7 separate regions of the Homo sapiens genome follow, and all the other regions are reported to be linked to region 6. Evidence: microRNA targets listed by miRTarBase, many of them from high-throughput screens and not tested one by one. Region 6 holds a microRNA gene; each other region holds the end of a gene's coding sequence.

Region 1 (3,081 bases), not on the chromosome of region 6:
TTTTTAGAAACCAGTAAGTTCTCTTCCCACAGTTCTTTACCTGAAACATGGTGGAAAGTCCCTAAATCCCTACAAGGCAATAAGCTAGTCCACTAGTAGGAAGAGGTCATGGCATTTTTCTCTCAAGAAAGTCCTATTCTTACTGTCCAATCTTTTTGTGCATTTGTCCCTAGCATGGCCTGGCTCTCCTTCACCTGCTGCATGGCGTCGGCTGTCACCACCTTCAACACGTACACCAGGATGGTGCTGGAGTTCAAGTGCAAGCATAGTAAGAGCTTCAAGGAAAACCCGAACTGCCTACCACATCACCATCAGTGTTTCCCTCGGCGGCTGTCAAGTGCAGCCCCCACCGTGGGTCCTTTGACCAGCTACCACCAGTATCATAATCAGCCCATCCACTCTGTCTCTGAGGGAGTCGACTTCTACTCCGAGCTGCGGAACAAGGGATTTCAAAGAGGGGCCAGCCAGGAGCTGAAAGAAGCAGTTAGGTCATCTGTAGAGGAAGAGCAGTGTTAGGAGTTAAGCGGGTTTGGGGAGTAGGCTTGAGCCCTACCTTACACGTCTGCTGATTATCAACATGTGCTTAAGCCAACATCCGTCTCTTGAGCATGGTTTTTAGAGGCTACGAATAAGGCTATGAATAAGGGTTATCTTTAAGTCCTAAGGGATTCCTGGGTGCCACTGCTCTCTTTTCCTCTACAGCTCCATCTTGTTTCACCCACCCCACATCTCACACATCCAGAATTCCCTTCTTTACTGATAGTTTCTGTGCCAGGTTCTGGGCTAAACCATGGAGATAAAAAGAAGAGTAAAATACACTTCCCGACCTTAAGGATCTGATACATCTAGTTATTGGTCTGGAAATTGGAGAAATGGAGGTGAGCAAATTAACGGTAGTGTGACTGTGGCTCAACTTTCCATGGTACGCGCGAATTGTTCTGGAAGTCACAGATGGGAAGACAGAAGCGCCCCTGAGTGCTTTGTCATATAGCACAGAAGTCCTCCACACTGCCTGGGACAGTGTCCTGCATCCACACAGTAGGTACCCAGTAAAAGTGTTATTAAATATTGTCCCAGGAGCCCTTAGGAGAGTGGTTTAACATGAGAAGGCGCCAACAGCACACAGGGTCAGGGTCACTTCTAGAAATAGCCCACCAAGGCTATTCAGATTGGACTGTGGTTCCCTTCTGGACAGTCACACCAGGGACTTCCCAGTGAACAAGGGGGCATAGGCTCCTCTCTGGATCCCACCTTTTCATCCCTTCTGAGAAATGTACCCTATTATTTCCTTCATAAAGAATGCCACCCATCTGATTCCTCAAGAATCTAGACCTAGAAATACCATTTGACCCAGCCATCCCATTACTGGGTAGATACCCAAAGGATTACAAATCATGCTGCTATAAAGACACATGCACACATATGTTTATTACGGCACTATTTATAATAGCAAAGACTTGGAACCAACCCAAATGTCCATCAGTGATAGACTGGATTAAGAAAATGTGGCACATATACACCATGGAATACTATGCAGCCATAAAGAAGGATGAGTTTATGCCCTTTGTAGGGACATGGATGAAGCTGGAAACCATCATTCTGAGCAAACTATCGCAAGGATAGAAAACCAAACACTGCATATTCTCACTCACAGGTGGGAATTGAACAATAAAAACACTTGGACACAGGGTGGGGAACATCACACACCGGGCCTGTCATGGGGTGGGGGGAGGGGGGAGGGATAGCATTAGGAGATATACTAACGTAAATGACGAGTTAATGGGTGCAGCACACCAACATGGCACATGTATACATATGTAACAAATCTGCACGTTGTGCACATGTACCCTAGAACTTAAAAAAAAAAAAAAAAGAATGCCACCCATCTACTTGCCCGTTCTCTTTTCCATATGGGGAAACAAACCATCCTTGATGACTAAGACGAATGAGAATGGCACACAAGTGTATTCCTGTAGAGTATTTATTTATTTACTCTATAACAGTTCACATTTTAAATAGTGCTTCCTGACAATATACCAGCTGGCTCTTCTTTAATAGGGCAATAAGGATAGCAATTCACATTCAGGGGATTAGTTTCACCATACCACACATTTGGGGGATGGCAAAAACGGGGTCTAAGGAAAAGGGAGGGTGTTTAAGGGAAAGAGGAGGGTAAGACCCTTGCATTTGTAGAAGTCATTACTATTTCTCAGTAGTGGTCATATTGGCTTTGCCGGCAACCTCAGGATGGGATTAGAGAAAGAAAGGAGCATGTCCTATCTTAGACACCTGGGTGGGTGGCTGCCTGCAAGGAGAAGGAGGCTTAGGGACACATTTCACAAGAAACCAGCACCCACATTGGTCAGATGAAGCTTCCTCAATTTTCAGCCACCACTTACACCTTTCTGTACCGGCTGCAAGAGGAAGAAGAAAACTAAACTTATAATGTTGTTTGGCAAGGAGAGATTCAAACTTACCATAGTCAAAAGAATCTATGTTAAGTTAGTTTGCAAATACACCATGAAGAATTCAGGTACATTAAGTTTCTCTAGCTTCCTCTTATCTTTCTGGGATTTGCCCTGCATAAACACAGTCCTCTGCCCAAACAATCCCACCAAAACAGGTCCTCAGAAAACAACTTCATGTTTCACTCCTGCGCAGAGTGGCTGGCTTCCCAGAAAGCCTTAACATAACAGAGAACCAGGTTATGCCCGGACAGCTCAGCCAAACCACAGGACCACCACCCAAGTTTTGGGTATTCAGCTGCCTATAAATTAATTCTTCAAATTCTATACTAAACCAAATTAGGTCCCAGGCCCTTAAACTCAAGTAGATTCAAATCCCAGAAATTATCTGGAATCATTCCCATACTCTAGAAGTATCTTCTTATTCCTCCAAAGTCAAGCTGGACCCACAGATGACTTCCAAACTGTTGAAACAAAATTTGCCTTCAGGATCTTAAGGCAGAGGCACCCAGAAACCTGATAAGGCCAATCTACAGGCCAGGCAACATGCATGCTTGGATCTACTGCTACCAACCTCCTGTTAGGTCATAATGCCTGTCAGTGGGTAATTAACAGA
Region 2 (3,077 bases), not on the chromosome of region 6:
AAAGATAAAATGCAGATGAATCAGTTTAAATCAGGCCTTCATTAAATTTTAGAATTAGCTTTTGGAATCCCAACTATTGAAGTGTGCAGTGTCTGATTCCTGAGCGTTGCGACAAAGCCATGAGCAGATAACGATAAAGTGCATCTTTGCCAGAAATAACATGGGCTGCCTTTGGTTTGTGCTAATAAACTATAAGACAACTTAAACTCTAATTTTAATATCAGAAATCCACCTCATTATAAATAATCTCAAACTCCCTATGTTATCAGCATTTTCATGTGTTTCTTTGGTGAGCCTGAAATATAATTTTCTATTTATGCTTCCAACGTAAATCTCCAATTTCTGGTTGGCCACTCTGGCACTAAGCCTAAGCTCTAATTTATTTCCATCTTTCCTTATTTCTTACATCAAAAGAGACTGTTGGTTTGAATAACAAACATTCAATAGACTTAGACGTGGGGTGGCAGGCAGCACAGGCATTACCTGTTTACCTTTTATTGCCTTCTTCGAATTGGCTTTTCTGGGAACAAAACCAATAAGACATGCTGTTCCTTCATCTAGTTTTTACCCAGGTTATTTATCAGGAGACATTCCTCCCCCCTTCCCTGTTTCAGCAAGGAGTGGCAGCAGGGTGAAGAATTCAGACTGGAACTAGGTTTCTGACCTTACACTATCATAGGTTATTGTTCTACCAAGTCATGTAGAATTTCATTGTCCTTAAGACTCTGGTTCGGGCTGATAATTGTTTTTGATTCCAGGAGATGCTGCTGCTAATACACTTGTAATCTGTAGGACAACAGTGTGCTGGGAACGAAATGCACACTGTCTTAGCCTCTTTGAAACTTTGCAAAGGTTCTTCCCCACCTGCCTCCCCTTGCTGTCTTGCACAGTAATTGGCCTAATAAAAGGCAGAAACAAGAATTTATTACACCTTGGGCAGCACTTAAAACAAACTTTATTCTCAGGAACAGCAGTTATGTCTACTTGCTGCTTTATATTTTGATATTTCCTCTAAATACTTAAGTCTGAATATATTCAAAGTCAAATTGCAAATCACTCAATTTCCCTGCTCCCTTCCTGGTTCCCCAGGTTGCGTCTTGTGATACTCCATGTAAACACTGTATTTGGAAAGATACATAGATCAGCATCCCTAGAGTCACATGATCACCATCAATCTGTGAAAATAGCATGACTTAAAAATAAAAGTCTCTTAGTACTCTGCCAACAGGCTTTGGCATAATCTTGGCAATCACTTAGATTTTTTTTTTTTTTTTTTTTTTTTTTTGCTGTTGTAATTTTTCCCAAGTGGAAATAGTCTCATATTTTGCAGAAGTTGTCCAAGCTAGTGAACATCAATCCATCTTCCTGGGAACTAAATTCGTCAGCTGAATGTACTCAGTCCACACAGAAATCAGTAAAGTGAGTGTGAAACTGCTTGGTGGCTGTTCCTTTCATCTTAAGAAATTGCAATACAAATTCCTGAAATCGTTTATGCAGGAGTTTTTATTCTTTAAATCTTCCAGTGTTAAAGCAACAAGAAAACATTTAGAATGTCCTTTGGTGGAATCTTATTACACTTGTTATATATGTAAACTGATATTCTTTGATGCCAGCACGTTCGTTGCCCTTACAGAGAAATCTCTGCACAGTGAAACAAAACAGAACGAAAGAGGACAAAATAAAATGTCAGTCTTTGCTGATTCGAATTAGATACATTAACAGATTGTCTGGTAACACAAATTGGCAATAATACAAAAAATCTACATATTACAGTAGTTCAAGAAAAATAACTTCATTTGAATACAAAAGGATAGATACACTTTCTTTTTTCCTATAGCCACTCTTGTATAGTGGGTGTGTGCTCGCACTGGACTCAGTGCTGCTAAGATATACAGGGGTATGACTGGCTTGCGCTTTTAGAGGGGGCTGTTACACATGTGCATCACTAACATCAGACAAAGAAATCTTTCAACCAACAAGGGTTACAGAGCAACGTTCACTAAAGCACAGGTTGGAAGGGATTCAGGGACGGAAGCAGGCCAATATGGCAGCTTGTAACAGATTTCCTTATGCCCACAATGCACCTGACAGCAAAGAATGCTATTTGGTTGGTCCACACACTGGGCGGAGTCGTACTAGGGCGCACCACGCTAGAGTAGCCAATGTTTTTAGGTCGGTTGATTTGTTTGTTTTTTGTCTTTCCTGTTTGGGGGGCTGTCGCAGCCTTTCCAATCCACAATATGCTCTGCAGCTGGCAATGTGATTTGCAGTGATAATATCAACAGCTGCCAACTCCTCTGGAGTCAGAAATTAACAGTCTTGACTCGGATGTGCTGTCCACGGGTGATAAATATGGCTTAGTTCAGTTAGGCCTTCTTAGTTTGTACACTGTCTGAGTGGGGGTGTCTGTATGTGTGTGTTTCCTATGTTAGTAGCAAATGTTTGGGTTGTGTCTGCTTCCCCACGGCACAGGCCCGTCCGGTGTGGCTGGAGGTGACACCTAGAACACCAGGGGGCTGGCGGTTCCCAGCAGCGTGGTCAGCAGCAGCAGCGCTGGGGAGCCGTGCGGGGGCGCGCCCTGGCCAGAGTCGGAGCCGCAGCTGCCAGCCTCCTCGCACCGCAGCTTCTCGCAGAGGATGCCCGTGTATGCGGCCGGGCACAGGCAGCGCACGTTGTTGTGGCACGTCCCTCCGTTCTGGCAGTGCAGGAGCTCGTTGTCGCAGACATTCGCTGCAGAATGAGGGGGAAGGTAGGGGTGGGTGGGCGCGGGGAGGAGAAGCAGAATCAATTGAAGTTCATCTGGTACATCATGTTTTCAGCCTAAAAAAAAAATCTCTATCGATCTTTGTGCTCCCCCCTCCCCTCCACAAACGAAGCCCGTGACTCCAATTTCCAAACAAATGTAGTTTTCTGCCTTTGTTTTTATCATATTAGTCCTTTTCATATAGATTTTTGCTGCAATCTTGGATGTTATCATTGTCCATTTCAGGCTATAGAATACAAAGTAATGCAATAGTCCTAGTTTGGCAGTATCTTTTCTTCATGGAACTGGGACCTGTTGTGATCTTTTGGGTTTT
Region 3 (3,084 bases), not on the chromosome of region 6:
TTCCTTAAATGGAGAGGACCTTGTTTTTTGTTTCTCCTTTGTAATCCTAACACTTGGTATATAGAAATTACTCAGTAAATTACTACTACAAAAGAGTATCATTGCCTACATCCTACATGTAAATGTTTGTTAAATGAATAAAGTAGTATTTAAGGAAATTCTCAACTAGTGGATTTTTTGTTTCCATAAATTTTTTAAAATTAAAATAATGTTTTCTGCTCCTGGCTCAAAATAATGTGTTGTTGTAATGCAGTTGGACAGTAAAAATACCAGAAATAAACATGCCTTTTTTTTTCCAGCTTGAAAATAAGGAACTTCGAGAATTATTGTCCATCAGCAGTGAGTCTCTTCAAGCCAGAAAGGAAAACTCAATGGACACTGCTTCCCAAGCCATCAAATAACTGAACTCTGAATGATGGCTGGAGATTGTCTATCAAGGAAGGAAGTTACTGTCTTCCCATTCAAGTACTGTCCATTAAGTGTCTTGCCTCAGATTTGATTTAATCTTAATTAAAGGTATCAGGTGGCAATTTAGAATTCCAGTCAATATTGGCTGTCCACAGTTCTCAGATGTGTTAATGTGAATACTACATGCTGAATTTCACCATTCCTTTCTCAAAGAGACTACTTTTAATTTTCATTTCTGGGACCTTGATTTATATAAACTATGTTTTCAGTTCTTTGTTATTTTTCACATCTCTGAAACTTTGAGCATTTTTTATAAGCCAGCAATTTATTTTACATAGCATTGTAAAATACACTTCTAGGAAATTTTAGGAAAGATTTAACTGTTTAAATCTATTTGGCATAAACCTTGATTTTTTTTTTCCATTTGACAAAAATAATACAATTCCACAGAACTAGATCAGCAGATTCTCTGATTTGTAATGTCATTCACCTGTGACATTTTAAGTCTCTCTGGTGCTAAGAATTGGCACTTTATAGCCTGGTGCCTTTACTTTTAATTTGAGAGAACCTACTGCTAGTCCCAGGAAACACACTTGGAAATAAGTCAGCTATTTTTTTTGCCCAGTGATGCTATAGTTGTCATATTGTCCAAAGTTCATATTGTTCAAAGCTGAGGAGCTTGTCCTGTGTATGTGAATGCACACATGTGCACTTAGTTCAAATACTAAAAGTAGCTTTTATTAAATATAATCAGCCAAAAACACACACAAAATAAAAAAAACAAATATAAGTAGTCAGTTTTTCAATGTTATCCTACTAGTTCTACATTCTATTTTAATTTTTATACAATTTCCATTTTATAGTTAAGAACCATCACTTACTTGGATTGGATGTCTTTCATTCCTAGCACTAATAGTTGGCTTTCTTTTTTTTTGTTTACATAGAAGCAGGGTTTTTTTTTATCTTTTTTCTTTTTTTTTGTTTAAGCTATATAAAAAGGTGAGGAAGCAGTTTTGTTACCTAATGAAAATTATTACACTCATAATGCTGTGTAGGCAACATTGAGATTCAAATGCCCAGTGGTCAACTGGGTTCACTCATCAACTCATTCCCGTCCCAGTTTACTCACATTTCAAATTTATAAATTTCTTCATGTTATACTATTCTATTTAGATTTGCCCAGAATTAGTTGAAATAATGCTAAACCTGTCAATATTTTCCAGTAACATTAAGCACCATACTGCATGGGAGAGACACAGTACTAAAAAGAGTTGTTAGTGCTTTATGTGAGTGATATTTCTTTCGTAATGCTATAAAGAACTACAGTTAAAATAACAAAATATTTTAAAGATGTCCTAAAAGCATCTGATCCCAGTAATAACTAATGGATGTCATCTAGAGCAGTGGGTGTTAATGAATAGGTATATGTCATTTAAGAATTTTTCAAATTTCTGTTTGATATCCTGCATAGAATTTGACAAAAAAAACACTTCCAAGTGTGAGCATTTTTTATTTCATTTCCCAAGAGTAAGTAAGTAACTATTAGCCCAGCCATCTGCCTCGAAGTATACCTTAAGTGACCCCATAAATCCATTCAAGAGGCAGGTACTCTATACCATTTGGCAGCCACGGCCAAACCTACCATGGCCAGATTTCAGTGAAAATGATGAAGTAATCAAATCAAGGTATAATATGGTGTCCCTTTATGTGCTTTATGTTCCTTTAGAGCTGTTTATAAAGTTCTTTATATCTCAAGTGTTAGGATAAATCGACATACTAACTTTTCCCCCTGCAAAATTAAAAGCCTGAGGTACAAGTCTAAGAAGCTTTTAGTGCTCTACATAATATAAATTCTGGCTGGTGTTAATGCTATGAAGATAATATGTAGTTAGAAAATTGAGTCGGGGAGGAATGCTCTTCATTTTAAGTGGATTTTAAAGTTTCTCCTTGAGTGGATGAAGAACTTGCCTGGTTTGCAAAAATCTTAGTTCAAAATTATATTTTCTAACAAAAACTGCATTTTGAGAAGATAAGCTAATTTTACTCAGTAGTAAGTCAAATGAGGAAGTGCAGAGGGTTTTTTTACATATATATAGCAACCTTGTCAAGTGGTCCTCACAAGAGTCATAAATACTTTGTAATTAGCACAGTATATTCAGCAGTGTATAACTCTACAAATAGTACCTTATATTAGTGTAGTATTATATCAATATCTTATGTATAATTCTTATATTAATACCTTATGCATAATTGGATTCAAACATTGAAGGTCTATTTTAGTGTTCTTCAAAATGTGCTTCCCTGACCTACTGAAATAGAAACTTGGTGATGAAGTTCAAGAATTTGTATTCTAATCATCTCAAACAATTCCTAAAGACACTGATTTTAAAATATCTAGTCTAGGCCCCATTGTGTAATAGTTAGCACTCTAAAAGATGAAAAAGAAAATAGTCTATGTGCCAACCACTTCATTAGTACTTATGAATTTAAAAATGAAAAAGTCTGGTACAGGAGACAAGTATATATATAAAATTATAATGCAGTGTGATAAATCCATTATAGTATGTATAAGATACAGAAGAGGGACTTTAAACTTGAGAATTCAATAGAGATAATAAATGGGTAGGAGGGAAATAGAAAACTTTGGTGCCACAAAAGCAAAGTATGTATGGTATT
Region 4 (3,084 bases), not on the chromosome of region 6:
TAAATGACATTGAATTGGAACTTGATGGCAATTAGTTCTAGATACAACCTTTTGATCTTTGTTGGAATTTTAAGGGAAAAATGAACTAAACTTCATATTTGTTGATTTTAATCACCTAATAGTACTGAAGGTTGGAAAGTTGCATGTGGCTGGATGCTGTTAATTTCTTTAATAGCCATGACTATAATTTAAGCCTATGAGAAGATAGACTGTTTCGTAGGGATATATTCACATGTGTGTGCACACTCATGAGTTTTGTCTCAGCAGGATAGAATAAGCAAATCCATGAACTGGTCTTCTATTAATACTTTGATTCTAAAAATTATTTGTTTACTTGCTATGGTCTGTTCATTCTGGGCCTAACCTTAAAGGCTCAATAACAAATACAACAAATGTAAATATGTTTACATTTTAAGACATATGCAGTGGTTCTTACAGATCAGTTAATTAACTCCAGAAAGCAAATGTTAGACTACACATTTATTTTTCTCCTTGATCAAGTATAAAATTCTGAAACAGAGGCTTTAAAATTTAAAACCTCAGCAAAATAATCCATGAATTTACTGATTCTTCTGTATCGTGTGTAGTTACCATTATGTAACTATACACACATACAGCTACGGATATAATGAAAATTATCTGCAAACACCTAAATTAAAGAGAAAAAAAAGTAGTTTGTAAACTCATTTGTGATCTACTGAAAAGAGGTTATATTAAAGCAAATTAAAATATTTTCCTTCTCTGTCCTCTGAAATGACTGCAGTAGATACTCTTAGTTATCCCATTTAGGGTGGTTGGAGGGCCTTTTTAATTTAATTGACCCCCCGAGGTGGTCTTTTGTTTTAAACAGGGGGCAACAGCTGGATCTCCAAGTACATATGGATTTTGTATATATAGGAGATTTTTAGAAAAATCAACAACCTAACACCAGATTCAAGTCACATAAAAGTGTTCCAATAAAATGGATGGATGTCTTTTTCCTCCCCATTTTGCTTTATACTGAGTAATGCACTCTTGCAAGTGTATACAAAAACTAAATAGACTTCTGCCCTCCAACATCTTTTTATTGCATTACTTCAAAATCCTAATTTTGTCTCTACTGATATGTCTTATTAACATCTGAAAAAATATATATTTTTTATTGGAAAATTCTAATTTGTTAGGCCTTGAAAGTTTTGTGACAATTATTTTGCTGTGTTTAACCACAATCATTCACCTTATGGCATGCTTTGATTACTAGACTTCAGGCAGTCTCATTCATTGTATCATACTTACACACAATTAGTAAGTTGTCTCCATGTGTGCTATATGTCTGAGGTGTATGGAGTTTTTATTTAAAAAGTGTGCCAGTCTGAATATAAGCATTTGATTTTGTAACATTGGACTTTTCTTAAAAGTACAGAGGTTCAAAGTATAGGTATGTCCATTGGCATAAGAATAGAGTGGGTGAGGGTCTGGACCAGGTTCCAGGTTGGTCCAGTCAGATGCCAGAACAAAGAAGAACAGTCAACTAAACTGGTCTACTTCAAAAATAGTGGGCCTGTGTGAAGAGTGAGACCACATGTGGGTGTGCACACCTCTTGTCCCCAGGTTTCCCTCCCTTTGAGCTTTTCTTTCCCTCCCTAACTTCTCTGGCCTATTGTCATTGTTGTTTCTTTAAACTTAAGGAGAGAAAAACAAAAATGAGATTCCTACACTTTGCCTAATTGAGCCACTACCAGGTTTTCTGGCAGCTGTGGCCACATTATTTGTGAGATGATTTTTTTTCTTTATGTTCAGAGTGACTTTTGATTCTGATTCTTTATGTTTTGTATGGAGCGGCACTTTTATCTGTGTTTTAGCAGAACTGTTCCTCTGTATCCTTTACGGTTTTTCTTTGTTTTTGTTTCCTTTTTAAATTATGCATAGAGTTTTTTTGTGTGTATGAAATTAAAGCCTTTATTAACCTTCTTTGATTTGACTGTTATTTCTGAAAAGGACACATTCTTGCTGATACTTGTAACAACCTGTTCAAAGTTGTGGAAATCACCTTCTGTTGGCTTTCTGACATGGACTTCCTTGCAGCACTGTTACTTCTTAAAAGGAACAGAATGGCAAACCAGTGTCTGGCCGTAGTCCCCATTGATTCCTGTTATTTTCATCTGAGGAGCCTGTGAAGCTTTGCAGAGGCTTCTGGGTAAGTTTGTAAACCTAGCATTGGCCTTCACTAGGCTCTTGCTTTGCCTCATTATTAAGGGTTGGGAGAGGGAGTGAAGTAGCATATGCATTTCATACTTGCCTTTAGGTCTCAAGCCTAGCCCCAGTGGAAGTGCTGCTCTCACTGGTACTGTTTGGAATTTGTGAAACCTCTTAAGAGGGTAGTCTTGTGGACCATTCAACTCTCCTTCAGCCCTTTAACTTACCCACTGAGTAAGGCAGTAAGGAAAGTATATGTGAAAAGGAAAAGCTGTTACTCTGGGGAAGATGTAAACCTGCAAAGTGCTTCAGCCTACCTGCCATAGATAAAAATGAGTCATGATAGAGGACAAGCTAGGGTAGTGCCTCAGAACTCTAATGTTCCATGGAGTGTTTGTGCTCTTCTAAGAAGAGAAAACTATAGGAGTATTAAAATTGATGCAATACCTCAGGATAGAAACAATCTAGCGACCTTAGAAGTTGAAATGAGGACCATAGGCTCCTTTTGGGGTATCATCTTTCTGAAGGAATAGGTACATTATTAAACAAAACTGGCATTTGCCACAGAAGTTTGTGCTCATAGGCACATCTGCAAAATTTCACTTCAATTGGTGTAGGACTAATATCGGTGAGAAAATGAGACCCTACAATCAGGGTAGGGTACTGCTTTACAACCACAGCTACTCTTCTCAAAATAGTCCTTTTTCTTTCTTGAGGTTTTGTTGCTTCCATCGAGGCAGAGCAGAGAAGGCAGCTGGAGTCATCCCAAAGGCCTGAGTGAAATCTTCAATGGACAGGTGTTCCTAGAAGAAGAGAGGGACCAGAGGGCAAAGGTCACATATCCTTCCTTCCTCCCTCACCCTCAGGCACCGTTTGCTCTGATGAGTCATAGATGTGGTATATAATCAA
Region 5 (3,084 bases), not on the chromosome of region 6:
TCATTCTTGTCCCTGTCACCACTACAGCCCTGACACAGAGTCACAGAGAAACTCTTTGATAAATGTCAACTGAAATTGAGTAATCATCTGAAAGCCATTTGCTGAGCTGTCTGACTGCCCTGGGCTCGAGGTTTTCCTTTATTCATTTATCATGATACAGCTTTGGCCAACATACACACAGGAGAGAAATTGTTGACATGTGGAACCCAAGTACAGAAAATCTTTCATTTTCCTCCCTGTCTGTTCACCAAATAAGTTTTTGTTTATTTAAAGACTACAGAGGATTTGGCTGTTAAGAACCAAATGCCTTTGGAGTGGAATTACAACATAATTTATCATTTCCTCTGTTTATTAAAAAATCCTGCATCTTTGAGAAGCACATTTGCAGTGAGTGGGGGATTTCGGCCACTCATGAAAGACTGTTGCAAAGCCCCTGTCATGTGGCTTACCCCAAAAGAGGCTCCTTAATTGCTCTATCTATCCCTGCTCTTCCCCCAGCTGACTTCTGATCATGTGATGACCACTTAGGGCTGGTGGATGGGGTTAGAGGACAGGTAAGTGGGGCAGGAGACTGTGTTAGTTTAACTTTGACCCAATTTTGACCTTGAATCCTCACTGCATGTTTCACCAGTGTAAGTAAAGAGGGAAGTGCAACCCTTATTACCTCCAGCACAGGAGAGAATCTGGAGGAAGTCAAAGAGCAAAGAGAAGTTGGATGTTGCTTTGAAAGAACTCAGCCAGGCCTTGCCACCACCAAAGTGGGCTCCATTCTGAAAGCAGACACCTTGCAGAACTGGAATGAACTTCCTACTTTTCCACCCAATAGATTATTATAGACAGCAATTTAGTTCAGTGCACTATGTACCCCCCCAAAACAGGGGTCATATCTTTCCCATTTTTGTATTGCCAGTACATAGTTCAGCACCTGACAAACAATTGGTGCTCACTAAATGCTAATGAAGGCAGCAGGACACAGTGGTTCCTTCCAGATTGGTGAGGTGCTGAGAGAGTGTGAGCCCAGAGAAGGCATGGAAGCTCCACACCCTCTCCCTCTCCCTCAACCTTGCCCTGTGTACCTCCTTCATTGGGCTGTTCAGCTGTATCTTTTATAATAAACCAGTGAACGTGTTTCCCTGAGTTGTGTGAGCTGTCCTAGGAAATTAACTGAACCAAAGGAAATCAAGGACTCTAGTTTGTAGTTGGTCAGTCAGGAGTATGGGTGGCCCAGACTCATGACTGGCATCAAAAGTGTTGGCAGTCTTGGGAGATGGAGCCCTCAACCTGTGGGATCTGACACTATTTCCAGGTAATGTCAGAAATGAATTGAATTATAGGATACCCAGTTGGTGTCTGCTGGAGAATTGCTTGGTGTGTGGGGGAAACAAACTCACACACCTTGTCACAGAAGTGTTCCATGTTGAGTGTGAAAGTACAAAAGGAAAAAAAGTTTGTTTTTTTCCTTTTACATTAGCACATCAGGCCTCAATTTGAATGCCAGCTCTGCTACTTGCTAGGTGTGTAACCCTGCACAAGAAACTTCACCTCTATGTAAATGACGCTGACAATGAATCATGAAAACCTTCTACCACTGATCAGCTTTGCTTTGTTACTTTGGGCAAATTACCTAATACTGTCAAGACTTAGTTTTCCTATTTGTAAATGAAGATAATACACATCTCTTAAGTTTACTGTCAAGATTATAAATAATGCCTAGAACTATACCTAACTCATAATGGCTATATTAGGAATGAATGAATGAATAAAAAATAATTGGAGGGAAAAAAACCTAATAACCCAGTATCCGAAGATAAGCCACAATAAACTACTTGTCTGTCAACAATGGGCAGGCCCTGCAGGAAAGGTATGTCACTACCAAGTAAATGTTGAGAACAAGTACAAGAGTGGAAAATGATAGAAAGGGAGTGTTAAGACTAGAAAGAAAAGAAGTCAGCATTTGCTGGGTAGCTACTATGTGCAATTTATTCACGATACAACATATGACTGCCTACTATGCTCCAGGCATTACACAAAGTTCTGAGGATATACAGGCTAATTAAGTGCAACAAGAATACTTAGAATTCGTACAAAGCAGTAGACTGTGCTATGAGAGCCGGTAATGAGGGTCCTAGGTTAGAGGGGAAAAGAAGACTTCCCAGAGGACGTGATATCCAAGACAAGGCCTGATGATAAACAGGACTGGCCAGGTAAGGAGGGGAAGAGAGAGCCAGGCAGAGAAAACAGCATGTGTGAAGACGACTCACAGGCAAAACTACTGTTATGGGTGCCTCACATACAGATCCTCAGTGATCATCAATCCAGACCAACTCTATTCTTTCCTTTGTGGTTGTTATTCCTTCCAATTTATTTAGATTTTATTGTTTAGTGAAAATGGGCCTCTAGTAAAGTGTCCAGTCACAGGTGAAGGCCAATATCAGAGTTTTAAAATGGGAACAGAGCCTAATTATTTGAAAAGGAGACTCCTAAGATGAGGAGCAGGTGGTACTAAGCCTGCCAATGGCCTCAGTCCCTTGGCAACATCAAGTCAAAGCAAATGCCTGAGTACAGGCCTTTTGCCAGCAGCAAGTATTTTCTGAGAGCCACCCACCGGCCCAGAGCAGAAGCAGGAAGAGAATGAACATGTCTGAGTGTTCCCCTGGAAGGCTGGGCCTTACAAGGACAGGCTTCTGTCAGCATGGTGACAGTCTTCTGTGTAGATGGGGGAGGGAGAGAAGTCCCAATGTGCCACCCATGGGATCCAGCAGAAACTGGGCTCTGGAGTATTGCTGGCCCCAGTGGACTTTCATCCAAGGAGTTCTTTGGTCTTCACTGCCAGATGCCTGTCCAGTTCTGCCACTGTGTCATCGGCCATTTGGCTGATCTGCAAGAACACAAAATGAGACAGCCTGATTAATGGGGCTGGAAAAGGGTAGGGGGATGAATATTCCAGAAACATGAAAAGGTTATGTGAGAAATAATAATAGTGACAAAAGTTCACATTAAGTACCAGTCAGGCACTGTACTAAGAACTTTATATATACATTCTTTTTTTTTTTTTGAGACAAAGTCTCGCTCTGTCGCCCAGGC
Region 6 (3,084 bases):
CGGTTGCCAGCCCTAGTTCTCTATTTTGGAGCTTCGTTCCTAGTCTTCATTGTGTTGAGTGACAAATTTGCAGGCTGTATGGATGACTTCATAGTTGGAGCAATGTCTTTTTGTGCTAACACTGCTTTGGTATTTAGTAAACAGTGAGATGCTCTTAAAATATTGCCAATGATTCTAAAGGAGTCCATCCTAGGATTAAAACATGGGTTTAATACAGACATTTCTTATTCTTACCTATTTATGTACAATTTTGGGGCAACTATACCATTTCCCCATTTCTAAAACTTTTCATTCATTTATTCAAAATTAAATACACTTATTTATATAATTTATCCATGTATTTATCAATGTGACTGAGTAAAAAAAAATCAGAATAGGAAGTGAACTGATGCTCATTAAACTCTTCTAAATGTAGTCATGTAAGTATTAGACCAGAGCTGTAAGCAGAGTAATAGTCTAACAAAAATACCTATTCTTACCTCAATCTTATGGAGAGTATTAGAATGATAATGTCAGTTTCTTATGACTTTAAGCCAGATTAAGGGACATAAATATATGACAGTATTTTTTCATAACCTACTGTAATATTTTCTAATTTTTTGCTGTATTTACTCAAAATTTTTCTGAGCTTCTTATGAACTTTATTTCAGGACTGGGGGAAAAGTTTTATAAATCGGTTTTAGAAAAATGCTTAAAGAATTGACCACATTATAATACAGATTTTTGCTATATGTTCTTGCACAAACTATTCCTGTAGGGAAATGTTACTTCTCATCACACTGACATCAAGTTTGGCCATGTGAATTTCTTTAGCTAGTTAAATGTGTATGGAAGTAATATGTGACACTTCTGAGCAAATATTTTCAGAGCATCCTCTAGATCCTCCGTCATTACTTTCTTTCTGCCATCAGAACCACTTTAGTAGAGATTTCCCCCTTCCAATGGGGTATTGGAATGATGAGGATGTGGAGCAGAGCTGCAATGGGCATGAACATGAGTGACAAAGAAACCTTCCTTGTTTAAGCCATTGAGATCTTGGAATGATTTGCTACTATAGCATGCCGTTGTAACCTGCCTGATACAAATAAGCTAATAAAACAAAGATTTAATTGCTCTGAATTTCAAGTTTAATACTATAAGATGGTGTTAGAACTATACCAAAATGGAGATGCTTTGTGGTATCAAAATGTTAGAATAATCCTTTATACTCTTTTACTACTTCAGATTATTTCACTAAAATATCTTGGTGTATAAATTATATAAATATATTGAGATGGAAACTAATAATTCTACTTTGATCTCCCAATAGATGAGAGCAAGTGAGAATTAATTTATTTGCATTTTTCAGTGGTACAATTAGCCATCTGTTGATTGGCTTATTAATACTCCCATTGAATCCATGAGTTTTTGCTAGGTTTCCTTTGGCAACAATTAAGAAGCACCAGTGTGTAGATTCTCCTTCTTCCTGTAATATAAATTTAATTTATTCTCTATCATTAAAAAATGTATTACAGAGGAGCATATTAAAATATTCAACAGAGGGTAATTAGCTGTCTATGTTTTATATGCAGTAATAATGCTTGAGACTGCTTCTAAATTTAGTAAGTAAACTCAGGCTAGAGCAACACAAACTGGTTGTCTGAAGATAACAATTAATTCAGACAAACCAAGTGACTGATGGTCCCTTGTAGACTTGAGTTTTCTCCTGTTTCTCATATTGCTCAGTTTTATAATCAATAACAGAAGCAAAATTACAGAATTTTCTTTTGGTGAGATATAAATTTCCCCAGTGACTCTCACTGAAAGGCAGAGCAATCAGCAATGCACCAGATAATCTGATAGCAAGTATAAATTTGCTATATTTACATAAACATATTTATAAAACATATATTTATATAAACATATTTATATAGACATATATTTATATAAATATCAATAAATAAAATAAAATTTAAGTTAGCTAGTTTATTGTGTTATTTAAAAAGTCAAGGACATGAAGTTATCAAAACTAAAAGACTCAGAGCAAAACTTCTCCAAAAGAGTCACTTCATGATTAATCGGTCTCTAACCAGATTTTTTTAAAATTGTACTTCTTGGGGTAAAAGACAATTTAATCCTGATATCAGCTGATCTTTTGATTCTCCTACTTTAATGGCTAATTAATCACCTATTTTATTTCCAAGGCACAGATATAATTTGAGTCTGTTGAAATTTTACAGGTTGGGAGCAATCTAGATAGTTTAAAAATGCATACGTATACATTTGGTATAATCTTTGCAGGCTTTGAATTCTAGTGTCTTCAACTAATCTGGACTTCTTGTACGGAAATGTAATCTTTTCTGCCTCTAAACAATTGACAAAGGGCAAGAGTTTCTAAGGAGGAAGAAAAGAAAGTTGAAGAAAACCTGACATTTTGCACAACACTGGTTGAGAATAGGCAAAAAAAGAAAAAAAAAAAAAACATTTAGAACAGAACTGAAAACCCATTAAGTGTTCTGGGTCCTAGGGGATACCCATTGCTAGCCTGCTCAGCAGAAGTTTTTCCATTACAATTTTTTGTAGATAAGTACTTTAATAGTAAAATAGGTCGTTGTTTTCCTGCGACTCTCATTAAGCTATTCAAAGAAAACACTTATTCATTTTCCTTTATCATTACCTTCCTTAGTTAGAAAAGTCTGGATTTCAGTTTTTTTTGGTTGCTTGTTTATTTTTGATTTATATTAATTTTCCCTTATGAAGAAATCAATATAAGTCCCCCGTGATTTCTTGAAAGAATATATCTAAAGACATAGCATTTTGTTTTTAGGTGGGAAGTTTCAGTAAAATTGTTTTGTTTGCAAAACTACATCAAGTAAAAAGAGGTTCTGGAATTTTACATTTCATAGCAGTTTTCCTAAATAATCTAGAGAAAATGATTCCTAACTTTTACTTCATTAATAAGAAATAGTCTCACTTTAAGAAATAAAAAGATTTTAAAGCTAGACAAAAACAGATATTTTTGTAAAAATTCAAGTCAATATAAAAGCAATCCTTTCAAGAAATGAAATATTTTTCATACATTATTGTGAAAGAAAAAAATTCCTA
Region 7 (3,084 bases), not on the chromosome of region 6:
CCCCTTCAAGCCACTGGCTCCCTCAGCAGCCCCACTTCCCACTGCTGCCAGCCCTCCCCAGTCTCCAGCAGAACCTGCCCATGCCAGCTCAGAGATCTTCTGCAGAAACCAACGAGCTGAGGGAAGCCCTTCTGAAGATCTTCCCTGACTCAGAGCAAAGACTGAAAATAGACCAGATCTTGGTGGCCCACCCATACATGAAAGATCTAAATGCGCTTTCTGCCATGGTGTTGGATTGAAGATTGTGCTGAGCGCTGAGCTTGCGCTCAGGGCTGGCTGATCAAACTCAAGCTCACACCTGTACCTGATGGGAATGAACATAATGTGAAGAAACTTATTTCCCAGTGTAAACGCAGTTGTACAGAAAAAAAATGTTTTGGGTATAAATCTGGGTTTTCAAAACCAGCTTTTTTCTATATATAAATTATGCTGCTATTACAGATTTAACATTTTCTGTTAAAGGAAAGTCTACATTTTCTGCCTGTTCAGAACTGTTTAATAGCAGTTACTCTTGAGTGTATTTACCTTTTTATGTTTTTTAAACTATTTTCCTTAAAGCCGAAAATATTGACAAATGGATATGGTTAGCCTTTATAAATAAATAAAAAAAAAAGTGTTGCTTTCTTAAGGAAAGCAAGACGTCTTAAAGTATATTTTCTTGAGATGAGTATGTCCCATCACTACCATGAAGTGTGCTCACCCTTCCAGCCTCCTCTGCCCTCACCCCCGGAGTTAAAGTGGGTAAGAGTTGGTTTGTTCTGCAGTCTTTGGTTGGAGTGTTGTGAAAGTGGACCCGCGGTGCCACTAGATGGCACTTGGTGCCTAGCCATGGTGAATGACCAGGGCGAAGTTAGTCTCACAGAATACCAGGGCTAGAAGACATCGTGGAGCCCATGGAGTCCCACCCTCCTTCCCCCTTCCACCCTGCGCAAAAGGGGACGGCCCAGTGTGCACGCCGTCCGGCCATGCCCACAGCCACAGCCACAGCTGAGGAGTGGCCGGGCAGGCAGCAGGCTCCCCAGCCAGGGCTTGACACGCCCACAGTCAGGGGCCTCCACATGCCTGGCCTGGCTCTGGAAGTCACGTCTTAGCTTCTGAACACCGTAGCGGGTTATGAGGAAGTTTAATGAAGAGCCCGGTCACTGTGGCCATCTTGTGTCCCCAACTGCAGGAGACGCCCTGATGTGGAGTTTGTACAGCTTTGCCAAAAAATGGTTTTCTATTCTCAAAAGTGACCCAAGCCAATAAATAGCATTAGTAGCTTCTGTGGGGGGATCCCAGAGCCCCTGTATTTATTTTCCCTGTGTTTGTCTCTAGTGTCCTCCTAAACAGCCTTTCCTGTGAGTCTTTCTCAGAATTGATATCTTAATATTGTCTGTTCTAGGTGTTGCCCAAATTCAGTGTCAGTGAAGTTCTTTTCCTGGGCAATCTTAACATCTTTACTCTTATTGTCTGGACCTTCAAAGGGCTTTGTATTTTACACCTGCGCCCCCAGGCTGCTCACAGTCGGCTTGCTGCCTGTCCTGCCTGTCCGGATCTTGTCTCCTAGTCCTGAGGAGCGGAGGCTGAGAACTCAGTGCTGGTTTGTAAATGGTGAGGGGACTTGGGGGCATCCCAGAGTGCTCCCTCCAGGCCTGCTTCTTGGTTTTGTTTGATCACTGCGTTCTTCAAGGGATGAATCCAGAGCCCTCCATGAGGCCAAGCTTGTCCTTCAATCATGTTTCCTCTCAGATGCGTCCGTGATGCCTCCTAATGTGGAACTGGTTGTCCATTGTTTGGGCCTATGGCCAAGTCACCCAGCTGTGGAAGCAGAGGTAGAAGACGAGGCCAGCCAGGAGGGCGACTTCAGTCACAGCTCCCATGCCTCAGCTTTGTACCTGTTTTCAAAAGCACAACTGAGGTGTGCGGGCTGGAGCTGTCTTGCAGTGATTCTGGCCTTCTGGCTCATGGTTCAGTCCAGCAGCCTGGCTGACCCACTATTTCTCCTCTGCTTCAGAGGAAACCCAGGAAATGCCCTTACTGCCAGGCTGAGTCTCCACCCATGCTGGTTGGTGCTGGCTAGGCTGAGGGGGCCACCACTTTTCCTGGCTAGAAGCTACTTGACCTTTGATGTTTGAGTTCTGTAAGTCTTCGTGTTCTGACTTACTGCTTCAGAGGGATTGGCCTGTCCCCTTTCCCTTTCTCGGCTATGGGAAGGAAGGATTGCTCATTGGTTGCCTTCATCAGTTACAGCATGAGACGGAATTCATCATTCCTTCCGAAACCCCTGATATTTAATATTTAATATTTAAAAACCCAAATTATCAAACCATTAAGAACTCATTACTGGTTCTCAGCCTCCTCCAGTACTAGCCTCAGTGTGGCTGCTGCATAAGTATCTGTAGCCTGTCTACCTCCTGCAGTGGGGCCGCTCGCCTCTTCCCTGTCTACTGCTCAGGCTCTCCCACTTCGTGGCATCCATGTAAAGTAGGTGGCAGGGCAGAGATGTCACTCTCATTCAACAGGGAGGATGTCTGTTGCTCAGAGAGGTTGTCCTGAGGGGCTGGGTGATTCCTGGGCCTACATTCTTCCCGAGGCTCCAGGCCGCTGTCTCTGGAAGTAAAAGAGCCTTGTCTGACCTTAATGCAAGCAGTCTGTTTGAACCCCTGTAGGCTGCATTCAGGAGACAGAAGGTGTCTGGGCCATCCTGGGCGGCCGGTCAGCGTTGCTAGGCAGGCTCGGCTGTCTGGCCGGGACTTGGGCCTGGGTGGCTTTTGAGACCAGTGAAGAAGGGAGAGCCGGCCTCATGCCGATGCGGCTTGTGGCACGGCTGGGATGTGAGGGAGGACTCAGATCTACACACAGAAACCCCTCTTCTCCCCGCCCTCCCCCAGCTCCTACCTGCCTCCCACGCCTCAGGTGTGGCTGCCTGTGGGACCATCCCCCAACCCCTTTCCTCGCACCTCCTTGTCCTCACCCAGTTCCTGCAGTGTCTCTGACCCACGCCTCCCGCCTCCTGGCCGACTTGCCCAGGAGGTGTCTCTGGCTCACCTCCGTCTGTTCATCACCTTCCTCCCCAGTGTTTCCACTTATCTTGGATGTTTT

What was found. Region 6 holds the annotated microRNA hsa-miR-2054 (CUGUAAUAUAAAUUUAAUUUAUU, at 1,466-1,488, shown strand). A microRNA usually pairs through its seed, bases 2 to 8, with sites in the 3' UTR of a target mRNA and lowers its output. Matches are read on the target gene's strand: a 7mer-m8 pairs with bases 2 to 8, a 7mer-A1 pairs with bases 2 to 7 and ends in A, and an 8mer does both.
Region 1: the mRNA of GSG1 is a reported target of hsa-miR-2054. Seed matches in the 3' UTR shown: 7mer-A1 at 1,385-1,391.
Region 2: the mRNA of NTNG1 is a reported target of hsa-miR-2054. Seed matches in the 3' UTR shown: 7mer-A1 at 1,290-1,296 and 7mer-A1 at 780-786.
Region 3: miRTarBase lists SIKE1 as a target of hsa-miR-2054. Seed matches in the 3' UTR shown: 7mer-m8 at 1,440-1,446.
Region 4: the mRNA of VIL1 is a reported target of hsa-miR-2054. The part of its 3' UTR that is shown has no 7-base or 8-base seed match.
Region 5: miRTarBase lists MRRF as a target of hsa-miR-2054. The part of its 3' UTR that is shown has no 7-base or 8-base seed match.
Region 7: the mRNA of N4BP1 is a reported target of hsa-miR-2054. Seed matches in the 3' UTR shown: 7mer-m8 at 434-440.

What each region holds. Positions count from the first base shown.
Region 1 is chr12:13,082,336-13,085,416 of GRCh38, reverse strand. It overlaps GSG1 (germ cell associated 1), which reads left to right. Exons shown (of 7, transcript NM_001080555.4): 7 at 174-1,885. The coding sequence ends at 516. FAM234B (family with sequence similarity 234 member B) reads right to left here. Exons shown (of 13, transcript NM_020853.2): 13 at 1,968-3,081. Among named protein-coding and RNA genes, the nearest start is that of GSG1, 20 kb to the left of the region's middle. RefSeq lists an enhancer at 1-813.
Region 2 is chr1:107,480,264-107,483,340 of GRCh38, reverse strand. It overlaps NTNG1 (netrin G1), which reads right to left. Exons shown (of 8, transcript NM_001113226.3): 8 at 1-2,730. The coding sequence ends at 2,501. Among named protein-coding and RNA genes, the nearest start is that of NTNG1, 340 kb to the right of the region's middle.
Region 3 is chr1:114,771,588-114,774,671 of GRCh38, reverse strand. SIKE1 (suppressor of IKBKE 1) reads left to right here. Exons shown (of 5, transcript NM_025073.3): 5 at 300-3,084. The coding sequence ends at 401. Among named protein-coding and RNA genes, the nearest start is that of SIKE1, 7.6 kb to the left of the region's middle.
Region 4 is chr2:218,449,117-218,452,200 of GRCh38, reverse strand. It overlaps VIL1 (villin 1), which reads right to left. Exons shown (of 20, transcript NM_007127.3): 20 at 1-2,978. The coding sequence ends at 2,865. It overlaps USP37 (ubiquitin specific peptidase 37), which reads left to right. Exons shown (of 26, transcript NM_020935.3): 26 at 1-1,950. Among named protein-coding and RNA genes, the nearest start is that of VIL1, 32 kb to the right of the region's middle.
Region 5 is chr9:122,322,334-122,325,417 of GRCh38, reverse strand. It overlaps MRRF (mitochondrial ribosome recycling factor), which reads right to left. Exons shown (of 7, transcript NM_138777.5): 7 at 1-2,878. The coding sequence ends at 2,801. Among named protein-coding and RNA genes, the nearest start is that of PTGS1, 47 kb to the left of the region's middle.
Region 6 is chr4:125,505,794-125,508,877 of GRCh38, forward strand. MIR2054 (microRNA 2054) reads left to right here and starts at 1,466; the gene lies at 1,466-1,514.
Region 7 is chr16:48,540,059-48,543,142 of GRCh38, reverse strand. N4BP1 (NEDD4 binding protein 1) reads left to right here. Exons shown (of 7, transcript NM_153029.4): 7 at 1-3,084. The coding sequence ends at 239. Among named protein-coding and RNA genes, the nearest start is that of N4BP1, 69 kb to the left of the region's middle. RefSeq lists enhancers at 521-1,021, 1,022-1,522.